3 linked regions of the Homo sapiens genome follow. The protein of the gene in region 3 interacts with the protein of the main gene of each other region in a biochemical or structural test. Each region holds a gene or a part of one and is shown on either strand. Other genes may lie near its edges.

Region 1 (3,028 bases), on a different chromosome or scaffold from region 3:
TGCTACAAACTGGGTGAACATATGCAAATGAAGCCTCCCTTTATGAAAAAGGAAGTAGAGGCCTTCATTCATCCCCATGTGAGCCTTGGTCTGGAGACTCCTTGGGAGTTAGTGGGAACAAAATTACAGGTGGTTGCAGATGATGGAAGATAATCTTCCAGCCAATGTTTGAACAATCACTCTCTCTCCTGGTCCTCAGCCATTTGCTACCTTCCAATCTGCATCTGTCTCCTTAGCCCCACTTCAGCATTCCAACCCCCAAGTCTCAGCAGGTGACTTGCTATTCTGTTTCCTGAGAAAGAACTGTCTCCACTTTCGGCCTCCCTCCTTCAGTAATCACTGCAGTCTCAGCCACTTCTCCCTTCTGCTTCTGCTCCTTCTAGTGTCTCTTGGGACAGAGATTAAAACAAGACATGTAAATTTGAAATTATTTCAATATCAAATAGAGGAATCCAAGAGAATGAATAAAGTGCTTTCTTAAAGGGAGAGAGCAGAGAGACAAACGGGAGCCGGAACAATGAGCCGGCATCTGCACAAACATAGACATGCATACAATTACATTTAGAATTTACAAGCCATTAACTGAAGTAATCTCCAGGGATCAGATTGATGTCAAATTTAATTTTAACTTTCTCCGGTACTTTACAACTGTATTTTGTTAGAATTGGCTGTATATATTTGATAAACCTATAAAAGTTCCTTTCCTTTCTCTGGTTACACTAATAGCATTTGAATATGAAAGGGAGGAGAAACCAATTTCTCCTTGAATGTAAACCATCTATTCTTTTTCTGGAACTCACTGAAAAATATGGCATAGGTGGAGGGTTTTCTTCTTTAAAAAAATAAGAACTCTAAACAGCTTTATTGAGGTAGAATTCATATACTAAAAAATCCACCCATGCAAAGTGTACAATTCAGTGATCTCCAGCACATTCACAGAGTTGTGCAGCCATCAACACAATCCAACTCTAGAACGCTTGTATCCTCCCATAAAGAAACCCTTGCACCTATTATCAGTCATTGCCCTATCCTTCTTCAGCATTGGCAACCATCAATCCACTTTCTGTCTCCATAGGTTGGCCTATTCTGGACATTTCATATAAATGGAGTCATATAATATGTGGTGGGTTTTTTTTTTTGAGATGAGGTCTTGCTATGTTGCCCAAGCTGGTCATGAACTCCTAGCTTCAAGTGATTCTCCCACCTTGGCCTCCAAAGGGCTGGGATTACAGGCATGAGCCACCGTGCCCAGCCTATTGTGTGGTCTTTTGTGACTGGCTTCTTTCACTTAGCATCGTTTTCGAGGTTCATGCATATTGCAGGATGTACCAGAACTTCACTCCCTTTTATTGCTGAATAACATTCCATTGCATGGACACAGCACTAATATTTGGTATATTTGAAGTTTGTACAGCTTGTGTAGGATGAAGCTCCTTCTCTGTTCCTCACATCACCACAACCCCAGTGTGTGCATTTGGGAGGTCAGTGGAATGGCCACACCCACCCAGAAGAGACTTCTTGGCTAAGCAGGGGAGGCGTGGATGATGCCACCTTCTTTTTCTCCCCAGGAAATAACAATGAGGCATGGGCTAAGGATTTGAAGCTGGCAGACTTTGCGCTGCTGTGCCTCGATGGCAAACGGAAGCCTGTGACTGAGGCTAGAAGCTGCCATCTTGCCATGGCCCCGAATCATGCCGTGGTGTCTCGGATGGATAAGGTGGAACGCCTGAAACAGGTGTTGCTCCACCAACAGGTATGGACCACAGGGCTTCTAGTGCTTTCTTAGCTGTGTGGGCTCATGTTAGGTGAGGAGATCACAGAGCTAGGTGCACCAGCCCACTCGATCCTCTCTAGTCCTCTACTTGAAGCTCATGGTGAGAGTATTGGCTTCATGCTGTGGCGTTGCCCAGAGTGTCAACAAGAACAACAGAGGCTTTTGACTCTGGGCTTTCTGGGACTCACTCCATTTCTGCTGAGACTCTGTGCCCTGGCCTTGTTGCCATCACTGCCTGGCTCAGAGGCTGTCTTTTTCCCTCCTGCTGTTCTTCTGGCAAATGAGGAAGCCACTGAGCCTTCCTCCCACATGCATTAGTATAGTGCTTTTTACTCAGGTGACATTTCCTGAACCTGGGCCGAGTGAACAGTGCTCTAGGCCAGGCCTCTAAAACAGCAAACTCAGAAGGTGCCCTATAGATTTAGGGCTCTCTAAATGTGATTTGAACGAAATCCCAAAATTTTCTTAAAATCTGGGATTTTATTAGAACTTCTATTTTTATCATATAACATCATGTCTCTGTGTGCTTTTGAAGAAAACAACTCAGGAATAACAAGACTGGCCACCATAACTGGCCTTTATGGAGCTCTTAATGTGCACACACAGTGGTGCTGGTGAGAGAGCTGCCGTGACTGAGGGGTTTGGGTCTCAGTCTCCCCACATGGGAGCCTGGGACAGAGCAGGAACTGTGTGAGGGAGGCAGGGTGACCGACCTGCACACTGAGCTGGTTAGTGGCTGAGCCTGGGTTTTCCTAGCAGCCTGCCTCTCTAGAAGAGCTGCATATTAGAATGTCCTGAGCAATTGACTTGTGAGGGCAGATCTCAAAACCCCTCCATTGTTGCCTTGTCACCCATAAGAAGTTGTATGGGAAAAGGTCACAGGTTAAGAAGGAAGGAAAGATGGCAGATGGTAGGAGGTAGGACCAGAAGTGGTGCGAGGCCTGGATGCTGCCCAAGGCGGGCCTGCCACCAGGAGTGTGGGGTGGGGGACTCCACTAAGGAGGTGGAATGACTCCAGAACTCAGCTCCTTCTGCCCCATGGTTTTCTCAGGGCTGTTCTTGGGTGGAAGAAATACCCCTTTGCCTCCTTTAACCCATAAATTCCTCTTTTCCTTAGCTACTCACTGTCTGCCCTTTTGTCGCAGGCTAAATTTGGGAGAAATGGATCTGACTGCCCGGACAAGTTTTGCTTATTCCAGTCTGAAACCAAAAACCTTCTGTTCAATGACAACACTGAGTGTCTGGCCAGACTCC
Region 2 (3,648 bases), on a different chromosome or scaffold from region 3:
GGACACTGAGGCACAGAAAGTGAAGGAGACTTGCTCAGGGTCACACAGCGAGCCGGGGATTAATATGCAAATGGATCTCATGTTTCCAGAATCCCAGGCCAGTCTCCTTCTGCTGCATAGTACAGAAGGTGATGCCATCCCAATATATTAGACATGGAATGGCAGGCTTACAGGCGGAAAGTTCACTTCCAACAAGGACTCCAAAATGTAATGCACAATGTGAGCGGTGTGAAAGTGTGCCTTAAAAGTTGGGATGAGTCTTGATAAGAGTCCCTGAAGCCTGTGGATTGGCAACATCTGCCTTTACATAGTTTTGAGATGACCCTGAGTAGCAGCACCGTGGAGTAGAGAGGGGACCAAGGAGGGCCAGGTGCCCTGAGCTCTGCTCCTCTTTCAGAGGCCTTCAGGCCTTGGGCAAGTAGCTTCTCCTCTCAGAGCCTGGTTTCTTCATCTGCTAAAGGCAGGGACATTAACACCTGTCCTGCCCCATCTCCCAGAGTTGGGATCAAGCTTTATGAACTTAAAGGACTGTGCATAGTAAGGGCTCTCAATTCTTATTTTAAAATTGTAATCACCTAAGGATCTATTTTTTTAAGATAAGATAGCAAATATTCTCCTTTCTTTTTTCATTAAAAAAGAAAAAAAAGAGAGCCTTACTCTTGGGTGAGGTCAAAATGTTTGTAGGTAAAATATATTCTACTACAATCTAATTCCACAGTCTGGAGATAACACCTGACCCCTTTTTTTACAATTTGATCGTCAGAAGCCTGGTATCCACCGCTTCTAACCACCTGTTTAGAGAATGCTAGGCTAGGCCAAGCACAGTGGCTGATGCCTATAATCCCAGCACTTTGGGAGGCCAAGGCAGGAGGATCATTTGAGCATAGGAATTTGAGACCAGCCTGGGCGGCAACATAGGGAGACCCTGTCTCTACAAAAAAAAAAAAAAAAAAAAAAAAAATAGCTGGGTGTGGTGGGGCATGCCTGTGGTCCCAGCTACTCAGGAGGCTGAGGTGGAACGATCACTCGAGCCCAGAAAGTGGAGGTTGCAGTGAGCCATGATCACGCCACTGCACTCCAGCCTGGGTGATAGAGCGAGACCCTGTCTCAAAATAAAATTTTAAAAAAGAGAATGCTAGGCTAACAAATGGATGCTCTGGTCTCCAAAGACCCAGCCAAGGCGCTCCTGAGTCTGGTAAAGCATCCCACCTAAAACTAAATCTCCTTCAAAGGGAAAAAGTTAGGAATAGAAGAGCTACAGCCAGCTGTCCACACGTTGGGGTAAAGCAATGGAATTTGTTTCTGAGGGAATACCATTTTAGAAAGAACACTAAGACCACACTTCCTGTTATTTTCCCAAAAGGCCATCTTAATCTAGGATGGCAGGGCTAAAAGGGACATTGATAACATCCAGTTAAAATGCCATACTCACAGATGAAGGGACCAGGGCCCAGAGAGGGGAAGGGATCTGTTCAGGTCACACAGCAAGTTACAGTCAGGCAGAGGACAGCTGGGACCCTCATCCCTCCTTCTACAACACACACTAAGTCACAGAGCACCACTAATAGGTCATAGACAAATGAGGTAAAGAGTCACAGCTGACACGAGCCCTTTCGAAATTGCAAACATGCCGTTCTGTGATCTCCCTGGAAGAGAATAATTACAAAAAGACTTCTCATGGAACAATTCATTTCAAAAGTATAAAAAAGCCACATGCAAATCCGTTTCTCACTGTTTGCCCTGCTAAAAACTACATCTGCATACAGATCTAGTTTGCATCTAATTTTTAAAAACACACAAAAGGGGTCATCTACACACACAGGTTTTCCAACTCTTCATGAAGCACAAAGATCCGTTATTTGACTTTTCCATCATCCCATGATCAATGTTTCTAAGACCCTAGGAAGAAAAGGAGAGAAAGAATTAGAGAACGTAAGCCTGCTCCGTTACAATCAACTATGTGTTACATGGAAGGTGGGGGAAATGATCCTTCACTTCGAATCTCTCCCCAGCAGGAAATGGTGCCAGTGGAGAGTGAAGGGCCCTGTGGAGTCCCAAGAAGTACTTTTAAGACCAAAAGGTGGACGTTTCAAAGCAGCAGACTCCAGCTTAATAAGATCTTTTCAACCATTGGAAAATCCACAGATGGCTCTCAGTGGTAGTGAGCTCTGTATCCCTGGAGGTATGTAAGCCAGAGCTGGCAATACTGTGTGTCACAGAAGGAACTCAAGACCTAGGCAGCAGTGATGCTCTTAAAATTCCACAATTTTTCATGGTATCCTTTTGATGTATTCACAACCCAGAATCATTTCTGCCTCAAAATATACGTGTATTTGAAAATTATAGATATATATATTTAAAACTGGAAACATATCTATATAAAACAAGTCACATATCATCAGGAAGACAATTTTAAGACCCAATCTCCTAACTCTTTGTTGAATTCCTATTTCACAGTTTTACATTTTCATATTTTTCTCCCCATTTCTAGGGCCTCTAACTACTCACGTACACCCATCCTTCAATCCTCATGCCACCTCCTCGATGATTCTTCCTTCATTTTCCCCAGTTCTAAGCTGCTTTTCATGCCTTAATATCTCCTCCCATTCCCTTACATCGCACTCCTTGTATTATAATTATGTCCACTTTTTGTTTTTCTGTGATCCCCTACAGACCAGAAGTAAGGCCTTGCACACAGAAGGTGTGCAACAGTAGTGGCTGAAAGAATAATATAACTAAAACCATGGCAAAATCCCCCTGCTTTTGAGAAACCCTATCAGACTTGTTTCTAATTTTTCCTGTTCTATTAAGCACCTGTTGATCAGCCTTGGTAATGGTGCCTGTTCACCACTGCTCCCCCATTCCTGTAAGAGGATCGTGCAGGCCAGGCACGGTGGCTCACGCCTGTAATCCCAGTACTTTGGGATGCCAAGGCGGGCGGATCATGAAGTCGGGAGATCAAGACCATCCTGGCTAACACGGTGAAACCCCGTCTCTACTAAAAATACAAAAAAATTAGCCAGGTGTGGTGGCGGGTGCCTGTAGTCCCAGCTACTCGGGAGGCTGAGGCAGGAGAGTGGCGTGAACCCAGGAGGCAGAGCTTGCAGTGAGCCGAGATCGCACCACTGCACTCCAGCCTGGGTGACAGAGTGAGACTCTGTCTCAAAAAAAAAAAAAAAAAATGATTGGTCTGTAAATGGGCGGGGCACACATCACATCCGAGCAGAAACTTTAAATGCAATGGTGTGTGCAGCCTGGCCACAGAACGGACATGTTCCACACTGGAGCTGTTCCTCCAGCTGGGTCCTGAATGAGGGGACACATGGGGCAGGGCCACAGCCAGCTCACAGCTATAACATGGAACATGAGCAAGTGATCAACGTCTGTGGCTGTGAACCAGCAAGATTTTGGGATTTTTATGAGCAAAAGCTGGCTTATAAAGTGATCCCTTTCCCGAATTCCCAGTTCACCTGTAGGCAAGGAACAGATGCAACCCCAGCTGTCACCTGTGTGACTACAGACTAGGAGGCCTTGACCAGAGGGGATGCAGAGATTCTCTCTGCCCCTACCCACAAGGAGATGTGTTGCAAAGCAGCACACAGTGCTGAGGACAGGAAGGCAAGGCCTGAGCCCCAGGAAGGAAGCTCA
Region 3 (4,274 bases):
GAAGTCCAGGGTTCAGGAAAGATGGTCTAGGCTGAAAGTATACATTTGGGCATCATTAGCATAAAGATGCTCTTTAAAGCCTTGAGGACCAGATGAGATCACTAAGGGAAGCAAGTGTTTCAAGGAAGAGGGAGTGATTCACTAAGTCAAATGCTGCTGATAGGGCAAGTGAAGATGGGGCGTGGCAATGAATGAATAAACGCCAGGCCTGTTAGATATGCAAAGCGCCAGTGATTATTGAGGGTTAACTGACAACAGACAGGTGTAGAGACAAGATGGCTCTAAGTCACAGGAACACTTAGAGACACAGGGAAGGGAAGAACTATGGCATCTTGGAGTTGGAAAGGACCTTAACTAGGTCATTGAATCTGTACTCTTTTCCCCACCCTAGCCTGACAATTGAACCCTTGGCTGTAGAACAAGAAATATTTGCGGGATACTGAGGCAAACAGTCTGGCTAGGTAGGTTAGAGAAAGTACCGTTGAAGAATGAGAAAAAGGGTACTTCAGTAAATGCTGGACAGCAGAGGCAGGGTGAGGGAGTGGAGATGACCTTCCGAAGTCAGAAAACCAAGGTTCAGGTCCTGTATCTGCTGCTCCCTAGCCTCCTGTCCTTGGGCAAGTCACTTCACCTTCTCCAGCCTCAGTTTCCCCATGCGGCGACATCTGAATATGGTAGTGCTTGAAGGTAGTGTAAAAGTGTCCTGCCTGTGTTAGTTACTGCCAGAGCAAGGGAAGGAGGCCAAGAGAAGCCCTTGGTTTGGGATGGCAGATAGGACTATCAAGATCTCCGCAGGTGGGCTGGCGCAACGTGTGGAGAAGCGAACCAGCATTCAGGCCAGGACCTGGGCTGGAATGGACTGGGCTCGGGTGGCAAGGGGGCCATCTGGACAAAGACCGTGGCCCTGAATCTGCCTCCCCTGAGCCTGGAACGGAGGTGGAGACCCCGAGGCAGCAACAGGGAGAAGAAATAGAGACGCTGAGGCAGAGAGACCAGAAGACTCAGAGACGGGGAGACTAAGAGACAGACCCAGCAACAGGCGGCCTCACGGGGGCCCGCGGCGACCCGGAGAGGGCGAGGCACCGGGACACAGACCCGGGCCGAGAGGAGCCCCCGCGAGGCGCAGGGCCGTGGCGCGCGGGCGCAGGGTCCCCGGCGGGGCCAGGGTGGCCACACTCGCCGGGCGCCCCCTCCCGGGCCGCTCGCCCAAGATGGCGATGGAGGGGCGGGTGAGGCGGCAGCGGCCCTGGCCCCCGCGCCGGCCCCAGCTCGGGCCCGGGCCCCCGAGGCCGCGCCCCCGCCCGCGGCGCCGCGCCTCCCCGGGCCACTGACGCCCGGCGCGCTCTCCCCCCGCGGCGGCGGCCGAAGCACGGGGAGGCGGCGGCGGCGGCGGCGGCCCGAGCCCAGCCCCATGGCGCGGGGGGACGCCGGCCGCGGCCGCGGGCTCCTCGCGTTGACCTTCTGCCTGTTGGCCGCGCGCGGTAAGGGCGGGCGCCCGGAGAGGCAGGAGCGACTGCGGAGTGCTGGTGCGCCCGCGCCCTGGTCTGCATCGGGCTGCGGGGCTGGCTCAAGCCGGAGTCCCGAGCAAGTGCGGGGGCTGCGCGTCCAGGTGCCCGCGATGCCTGCGCGGGGGTCTGCGAGCTGCGGCCGGGGGGCGTTTGTGGGGCGTGCTTGTCCGCAGTGGGTGTGTGCCTTTGGTTCGCAGAGTCTGGAGTCGTGTGTGTGTGTGTGTGTGTGTGTGTGTGTGTGTGTGTTGGGAGTGCTCCTGTCGTGTCCGCAGTGCGTGCCATGGTCGCGGCGTGGCATCGGCGGGGCGGGTAGCTGCGGTGTCGGTGGCTTTCGCGGGGCGGGCTCTGCCTTGCCTGCGCGTGTCTTGGGTTGAGAGTGTGTGTAAAAGAGGAGGGAACTGGGGTTGTGTCTGCACCTCCATTTGGGTCGGGTGCGTGTGCAATTGTGTTTATGGGGCTGAGCTAATATTTGGCCTTGGCATTTGGGAAGTGTCCTTGCCCATAGTGGGGGACAGAGCGATGGATCCCGTTTGACTGGGGGTGGTGGTGATAAAACAACACTCAACTTTGCCCAGTGGGTGTGGTCCCTGGGGCCGGTTAGAGAGGGGTAGAGGGAGGTGTTGCTCCCCAAAACCTGTGGCCAGCAGTGGACTGGGGGAGGGGGCAGGAAACCATTTGCTTTCGTGGACATGTCCAGCGCTTGTTCTCACGATGGGACGCGTGTCACCCCGGCCCCACCCCCCAGGGACCGACCAGGGAAGCGTGGACGAGGTCAGCAGGGCCTCATCCAGTCCGCAGCCCAGTGCGGAGTGGGTACGGGGTAAGTCAGAGTTGTCCAAGCTGGAGAAAGGGCTGGGGAGGGGATAGCGAAGTCCCCAAGGGTGTGTGTCTAGGGCTGCGGCTTCCACCCACAGCTCTGTCGCTTCCTGTCCGGTGTGCGTTTGGGGGCGGCTCATGGGGAGTGTAGGTGGCAGGGCTGGGAGGGGGATGGGCTGGCCGCTTTGTTCGCCTAGTTCTTGCCTTCCCCGCGGAGGGGGGAGCTGAGGATGTGTCCGGGGAGAGTCGGGGAGGGACTTGGAGGTGGGGGTGGGGAGGGGGATTTCTCTCCAGCTGCTGCGGCTTTCCAGAGAGACTCAGCCAGGCCACGTGGGAGGGAGGCGGGGGGAAGGAGCCTCCGCCTGGCCAGCCCCAGGCCCATCTCCAGGAAAACCAAACAGCGGGTGGGAAAGTGCCGGGAACTCCTCGGACCCCTTCTGTCCCTACAAAGACACGCCCCTTTCCAGCCCCAACAGCGGATTAAGCTGGAGGCCGCCGCGAGGCTGGGTCTCGGCTGCTGGGCCAGAGGAGCTGGAGGCCCTGGCTTGTCAGGTGAAAGGGGCGGGGAAGTGTCAGAGAGAGGTCTGTCTTCCCAGAGCTCAGGGGATTAAGGAATAGTTCCCCTGCCCCACCTTCCGCTATTCCTAGGGCTCCTGGAACGAGCTCAGGGTCACCCAGCTAAACGGCATCAGGGCTGGGAACCGCACCGGCGCATTATTCAATACCTTTAGGACCTGCCGCGAGGGACCCAGCTTCCCTGGCCTCTCCCTGCTCCCGAACGCACAAAGCAGGCGAGGGACCGAGTTGCGGCGTCTCTTGGTTGCAGTGTGAGTGGCTACAACAGCTTGCCCTGGTCCTCCAAATCTCAGCAGGCCGGGGGACACTCCAGTCGAGTCATGACTAGCCACCCTGATCTGTACTGAGGTCATTCATTCGTTCAACAAATATTTATGGAGCACCTTTTATAGGCTAGCTTGTGCCTAGTGCCTAGAATATAGTAAATAAGGAGGCAGACCTGATCCCTGGTGCAAAGCTTTCAGTCTGGTGGAGGGGGAAACTGACAAGTCCCCTGAAGTGCTGGGGAAGACGCAGGAAGGAGGGGCTCCTACACCGATCTGGGAAGGTCAGCAAAAGCTTCCTGAAGAAAGTGATGAGTAGTAGAGCTCGACATGGAGTTAGCCCTGTAGAAGGAGAATGATGATGGGGACAGTTTTCCAGAGAACAGCATGTGCAAAGTTCAGAGGTGATTTAGTTGAGATCATTGGATTAAACTAAATCTAGCTGGAGTTTAGGGACAAGGGGTGGATGGGGGGCAGGTGAGGGAAGCATGGAAAGGGGTCAGGGAGTATCAAGACAGGAGGCTGAAGAGGGGAGCTAGATCCAGCTCACAAAGGGCTTTACAGGGCCCACCAAGGTTTCTGGCCTGAGAGTCCCCATGAGCCCTTGACAGGATTTAAAATCAGCTTTGCATCATCTCATTCCAGCCAGTGTGGAGGATGGATTGGGTGGGGCTGGAGGCAGGAAGCTCCAGCTCCTTCGAGGCTGTTGTAGCAATCCAGAAGAGAGGATGGTGGCAGCTAGCATAGTGGCAGTTGGGGTTGGGCTGGAGTGGCTGCATTCCAGAGATTTTCAGGAAATAGAATCAGTAGAACTTGAGGATAGATTGAATTTGTAGGGGGCGAGAGAGAGGAAAGTAAGAAATAGGCCGGGTGCGGTGGCTCACGCCTGTAATCCCAGCACTTTGGGAGGCCAAGGCGGGCGGATCACGTGAAGTCAGGAGTTCAACACCAGCCTGGCCAACATGGTGAAACCCCATCTCTACTAAAAATACAAAAGTTGGCCAGGTGTGGTGGTGCATGCCTGTAATCCCAGCTACTCGGGAGTCTGAGACTCGAGAATCGTTTGAACCTGGGAGGTGAAGGTTGCAGTGAGCTGAGATCACGCCACTGC

Evidence for each region.
Region 1: the proteins of IGDCC4 (region 3) and LTF interact in a biophysical measurement, tested with the Homo sapiens proteins (one large-scale study listed by IntAct).
Region 2: the proteins of IGDCC4 (region 3) and IGFBPL1 interact in a biophysical measurement, tested with the Homo sapiens proteins (one large-scale study listed by IntAct).

Annotation. Positions count from the first base shown.
Region 1 is NC_000003.12:46,438,021-46,441,048, reverse strand, and holds part of LTF (lactotransferrin isoform 1 preproprotein), read left to right. Parts: intron 1-1,568; coding exon 1,569-1,753; intron 1,754-2,919; coding exon 2,920-3,028. UniProt on the Homo sapiens protein: Transferrins are iron binding transport proteins which can bind two Fe(3+) ions in association with the binding of an anion, usually bicarbonate. Lactoferricin binds to the bacterial surface and is crucial for the bactericidal functions.
Region 2 is NC_000009.12:38,407,319-38,410,966, forward strand, and holds part of IGFBPL1 (insulin-like growth factor-binding protein-like 1 precursor), read right to left. Parts: intron 1,900-3,648; 3' UTR 1-1,899. UniProt on the Homo sapiens protein: IGF-binding proteins prolong the half-life of IGFs and have been shown to either inhibit or stimulate the growth promoting effects of the IGFs in cell culture. They alter the interaction of IGFs with their cell surface receptors.
Region 3 is NC_000015.10:65,420,000-65,424,273, reverse strand, and holds the start of IGDCC4 (immunoglobulin superfamily DCC subclass member 4 precursor), read left to right. Parts: upstream 1-1,326; 5' UTR 1,327-1,411; coding exon 1,412-1,481; intron 1,482-1,871; exon of another isoform or gene 1,872-2,219; coding exon of another isoform or gene 2,220-2,328; intron 2,329-4,274.